Homo sapiens: one gene and its partner. The protein of the gene in region 2 interacts with the protein of the main gene of each other region in a pairwise test. Each region holds a gene or a part of one and is shown on either strand. Other genes may lie near its edges.

Region 1 (2,734 bases), on a different chromosome or scaffold from region 2:
GAAATATAAAGAAGGAGAAGAGCAACACCATTGATGGAACAGTGAAAGATGAGACAAGCCCCGTGGAGGAGTGTTTTTTTAGTCAAAGTTCAAACTCATATCAGTGTCATACCATCACTGGAGAGCAGCCCTCTGGGTGTACAGGATTGGGGAAATCCATCAGCTTTGATACAAAACTCGTGAAGCATGAAATAATTAATTCTGAGGAAAGACCTTTCAAATGTGAAGAATTAGTAGAGCCCTTTAGGTGTGACTCTCAACTTATTCAACATCAAGAGAACAACACTGAGGAAAAGCCTTATCAGTGTTCGGAGTGTGGCAAAGCTTTCAGCATTAATGAGAAATTAATTTGGCATCAGAGACTTCACAGTGGGGAGAAACCCTTCAAATGTGTGGAGTGTGGGAAAAGCTTCAGCTACAGTTCCCATTATATCACACATCAGACAATCCACAGTGGGGAGAAGCCCTATCAGTGTAAGATGTGTGGGAAGGCCTTCAGTGTTAATGGAAGCCTAAGTAGGCATCAGAGAATCCATACGGGAGAGAAGCCCTATCAGTGCAAGGAATGTGGAAATGGCTTCAGCTGTAGTTCTGCATATATTACACATCAGAGAGTCCACACTGGAGAGAAACCTTACGAGTGTAATGACTGTGGGAAAGCGTTCAATGTTAATGCAAAATTAATTCAACATCAGAGAATCCATACTGGAGAGAAACCTTATGAATGTAATGAATGTGGAAAAGGCTTCAGGTGCAGCTCCCAGCTTAGGCAGCATCAGAGCATCCACACAGGAGAAAAGCCCTATCAGTGTAAAGAGTGTGGAAAAGGCTTCAATAATAATACAAAACTCATTCAGCATCAGAGAATCCACACAGGTGAGAAACCCTATGAATGCACTGAATGTGGAAAAGCCTTCAGTGTCAAAGGGAAGTTAATCCAACACCAGAGAATTCACACAGGCGAGAAACCCTATGAGTGTAATGAATGCGGGAAAGCCTTCAGATGTAACTCCCAATTTCGGCAGCATCTGAGAATTCACACTGGGGAGAAGCCCTATGAGTGTAATGAGTGTGGAAAGGCCTTCAGCGTTAATGGGAAACTAATGCGGCATCAGAGAATTCACACTGGGGAGAAACCTTTTGAATGTAATGAGTGTGGGAGATGCTTTACTTCTAAAAGAAACCTACTTGATCATCACCGAATCCATACTGGAGAAAAGCCCTATCAATGTAAGGAATGTGGGAAAGCCTTCAGTATCAATGCCAAACTAACTAGGCATCAGAGGATACATACTGGGGAGAAACCTTTCAAATGTATGGAATGTGAGAAAGCATTCAGCTGTAGTTCTAACTATATTGTGCACCAGAGAATCCATACAGGAGAGAAACCCTTTCAGTGTAAGGAGTGTGGAAAAGCCTTCCATGTTAATGCCCATTTAATTCGGCATCAGAGAAGCCACACTGGGGAGAAACCCTTCAGATGTGTGGAATGTGGCAAAGGCTTCAGCTTTAGTTCTGACTACATTATACATCAGACAGTCCACACTTGGAAGAAACCCTATATGTGTAGTGTGTGTGGGAAAGCATTCAGGTTTAGCTTCCAGCTCAGTCAGCATCAGAGTGTCCATAGTGAAGGAAAATCCTAATAATGAGAAAGATATAGAAAACTCTTAAGGTTAATGCCAAAATGGATCAAGTATCATCAGATTCATCCATTGAAAAACCTCCAAGAGGGCATGAATATGGCAGAGTCTTCATATGGAAACAGTTTTTATTCTATTCAGTTTAAATCAGGAAAGGATGACCAGTTAAAGAGAAACATCCAAAAATAGCTTTGTTTTGTACCAACAGGAATTAGAAAATATAATGAAAAGATTTCGTTCCCAGCAGCATCAAGAAAAGTAGATTTTCTAGAAATAAACAGTTATGGAGGACTTGTATGGAGAAATTTAAGTCTTCACTGAGGGCCACTTTACAAAGGAAATTTGAATAAATGGAGAGAGAGAGAAGCCTTGTTGTTGGATAGGAAAACCCGTACTAAAGATACTCTACCTACATTAATTTATTTGTTTAATTTTTGACAACAAGCATGTATTACTTTTGAAAAGATGAAAAATAAAGATTTATTTAAAAAAGGAAAAAGGTATGAGTACATTTTTAATTTTCATGTAATTGAGAAAACCTTTCTAAGTATTAGATGAAAGCTAGAAACTATCCACAGGGTATGTACTGATAAATTGACTACTCAAAAACTAAATATTCCTGTATGTTTTTGTTTTAAAGTTTAAAAGATAAAGCGCAAAATGGGGAAATACTTTTGTAAAATTTGTGATATAAAAGTGTAGTATTTGGGCATGGTGGATCAGACCTGTAATCTCAGTGCTTTGGGAGGCTGAGACGGGAAGATTGCGTGAGGCCATGAGTTCCAGACCTGTATGGGCAACATAGCAAGATCCCATCGCTACAAAAAATAATAAAAGCCAGGCGTGGTGGTATGTGCCTGCAGTCCTTGCTGCTTGGGAGGCTGAGGCAAGAGGATCACCTGACTCCAGGAATTCGAGGCTGCAGTGAGCTATGACCACCACTGCACTCCAGCCTGGGTGGCAGTGAGACCCTGTCTCTTAAAACATTAATATCTAAAGATAAATAATTTAGACACACTAACAGGCAGCTTTTAAACAGATACTAAAAAATGACTGTTAAAGTAAGAAGAGGTATTCAATCTCAGTACTCT
Region 2 (3,658 bases):
ATAATTCAAACATTTAGGAGCCTCAGTAATTTAAGTCTTGGGAACAAGAAACAGGATGAGAAGTGTTTTAATTGGAGAAAACTTACGTTGATCATGATCAGGTTACCAGTTCACAAAGGAGACACACTGAATCACTGTTTGATAGTAGGCAAGATGTCAAAGGTTTTCTCTACTACTAGAGCAGCAGCATAAATCCACCCTAAGTCACCAGTGATAGAAATGCTTTCCTTTGATATAAAACATTTAACAGAACTAGAAGAGCATTAAAATATTTTTAAAACACCTTACTCTGGCCGCAGAAGCAAAAGAATCAGGGCCATGCGCTGCATTTCTTATGCCATCTGTTCCAAAGAGGGCTCTAATGCTTTCAGAAGCATCTGTGCGTGCCACTCCAGAGTTTGCAGGTCCCAGCAGTCTTTTCCATTCACATATAGCATCATCTCTTAAAATCTCCATGGCAATAATAGGACCAGTTGTAATAAACTGGATCAGCTCACTACAAAACAGATAGAAGATTAGTTTGCTTCTTTTTTCTGTCAACTAGGTATTTGTCTTAACGACAGGATATATTTAAATTGGATTATTTCAACATAGACATGAATATTATAATCTTAGAACCATTAAGCATAGTTAATTTTACATGGGCAGGAGAAATTTTTCATAAATTGAGTGTCTTGCAGTGGCTCAATTCACTTCAAATCACTAGTAATGTCAAATTACTGTTACCAGAAAAATCACTGTTCTGTTGAATTAAGACTATTTCATGACTTAAAATGCATACTGTTGACCTATGCTTTTCCCAGTGCTCTAACAGGTACAGAGGATTTTCCTTTTTATTTACATGTGTTTACCACTGCAGTCAAGTACAATTTCACAATATATAGGGATGGATGCCTTGTAACATATTTTTAGTAAGAATTTATTTATTTTTGTGTAAAACTATTAGAATTCAAAGACTGACAAAGAACTCTCTTAATCAATAAACACTGAGCTGGTTTGGTGATAAAAAAAAAAATCCCCAGCAGGCTTCAAGAAATATCCTTTTATTAGCGTAAAAACTACTCTGGGTTATTTCTGTATTAAATTATTAAAGTGTACGCATCGGTTCTTGACTAAAAATCCAGCACTGAGTCACAGTCCCCCAAGGTATAAAAGACAATACTTCATTTTATTTTCTACTTTTATATGTGTACAGGATGCAATGACAAGTTTAACTATGAAATAAGTGACATCCTCCCTCTGACTATATTAAGCAGGGACACAGTACTTTTTAGAGTAAGCCCATGGTTTTCTCTCATCCAAAGTAGAGAGAAGAGATCCTCCTGGAGAAAGGAGCATGGTGTGACAGGCTCTTTTGTGCCCACTAACTTATGACTATTTTTTACACACTTCCTTCCACCCTGCATGTTATATGTCAGCTCCCCTCAGTACTTCCTTTTTAAAACACTCCCATTCATTTTGAAGAATATTTCTAAAAAACAGCATGTACAAAAAAGTATTCTTGTCTTCTATCCTAAGAGTTCTATAATACCTCCTCATACATTTTCTGCCAGACCTTTGCTGCCAAAACAAACAAAACCCCCAAGACCAACCACTAGATTTAAAAAAACCCAAATCAAAGGAGCAAACCATGTTTATTCACTCAATAAGCATTTAATAATTGCCTATAACATATCAGCGTCTGTGCCACAAAAAAGATCCCCCTTCAAGACACTTACAATCTAACGCCCTATTAATACAAAATTCTCAAAACACACAATTGAATAAGCCTATGAATATGGCATGTAACAATATAGGGAAGGATGTGCCTGATCATAGATACTGCTTCATGAAAATTTAATTACTTCACCTAGTCTTTTGTTACATCATTCTCATTAACAGGCAACTAGTTAATTCATTCCTTTAATAAAATTTACTGCATGCAAATCACACATAAATCATTAGACTAGGAGTTGTAAGTTAATGCTATAAACATATACAAAGTTTATACCAAAAGATAATTTCCACCAATTTTCTAGAAAAGTGTATATAGCTATTCTAAGAAGGCTTAGGAATATTTTATAACACTTGATTTGAAATAATCTATAGCATAATAATTTTCTTACATACAAATTTTTTTAAAAACCCACTACTCAGTGCAGGATATCAAATAACATGTCTACTGTGGCCATTTAGTTTGGCTGATGTAACATTCTTTCTTATTAGAAGTGTAAACAGTCTTTGGCAACAGTAATAATAATATGAGCATGCAAAATATTCACTTAAATTTAATTACATGTCAAATATTTAGAATACATAAAGTGTAACATATATTATCTGTTCTATGTCAAGGAACAAAATATATATCAAACTAGTTAAAATAGAAAGGTTCCATGAACATTGCTTTATGTATACAAGACTACCAAAATAGTTTAAAAGTACAACAGGCTACAGTAACCAAAACATCATGGTACTGGTACAAAAACAGACACATAGATCACTGGAACATAATAGAGAACCCAGAAATAAAGCCACACATCTACAGCCATCTGAACTTTGACAAAGTCAACAAAAATAAGCAATGGAGAAAGGATTCTCTATTCAATAAATGGTGCTGGGATACCTGTCTAGCCATAAGCAGAAGAAAGAAACTGGCCCCTTAACATTAACCATATACAAAACTTTACTCAAGATGGATTAAAGATTTAAAAGTAAGACCTCAAACTATAAGAATCCTAGAAGAAAACCTAGGAAACACCATTCTGGACATTGGCCTGGGGAAAGAATTTATGACTAAGTCCTCAAAAGTAATGGCAACGAAAACAAAAATTGACGAGTGGGACTAAAGAGCTTCTGCACAGAAAGCTTCTGCACTAGCAACAGAGTAAAAAGACAATCCACAGAATGAGAGAAAATATTCACAAACTATGCATTCAACAAAGGACTAATATGCAGAATCTGTAACGACCTTAAATAATCAAACAAGCATGAAACAACCCCACTAAAAAAAGAGCAAAAGACATAAATACACACTTCTCAAAAGAACATACAAGCAGCCAATAAGCATACGAAAAAACGCTCAATATCACTAATCATCGGAGAAATGCAAATCAAAACCACAATGAGATACCATTTCACACCAGTCAGAATGGTTATTATTAAAAAGTCAAAAAATAACATGCTGGCAAGACTATAGAGGAAAGAGAATGCTTATACACGGTTGGTGGGAATATTAATTACTCCAGCCATTGTGGAAAGCAGTGTGGATATTTCTCAAAGAACTTAAAACAGAGCTACCATTTAACCTAGCAATTCCATTACTGGGTATATACCCAAAAGAAAAGAAATTCTGCCAAAAAGACACATGCCCTCATACACTCATTGCTGTGCTATTCACAATAGCAAATACATGGAAATAACTCAAGTGCCCATCAGTGGCAGATTGGATAAAGAAAATGTGGTATATATATATAACACAGAATTCTACACAGCCATAAAAAAATAAAATTATGTCCTTGGCAATAATATGGACACAATTGGAGGCCATAATCCTAAACAAATTAATCCACAAACAGAAAACCAAATGCTGCATGTTCGCACTTACAAGTAGGAGCTAAACATTAAACACACATAGACACAAATTTGGGGGTAATAGACACTGTGGACTACTAGAGGAGAG

What was found. The genes of interacting proteins can lie anywhere in the genome.
Region 1: the proteins of NME7 (region 2) and ZNF23 interact in binary tests that used the Homo sapiens proteins (3 or more experiments, as listed by UniProt).

What each region holds. Positions count from the first base shown.
Region 1 is NC_000016.10:71,447,005-71,449,738, reverse strand, and holds the end of ZNF23 (zinc finger protein 23), read left to right. Parts: coding exon 1-1,646; 3' UTR 1,647-2,142; downstream 2,143-2,734. UniProt on the Homo sapiens protein: May be involved in transcriptional regulation. May have a role in embryonic development.
Region 2 is NC_000001.11:169,298,268-169,301,925, forward strand, and holds part of NME7 (nucleoside diphosphate kinase homolog 7), read right to left. Parts: intron 497-3,658; coding exon 289-496; intron 1-288. UniProt on the Homo sapiens protein: Possesses an intrinsic kinase activity. Displays 3'-5' exonuclease activity with a preference for single-stranded DNA. Does not seem to have nucleoside diphosphate kinase activity.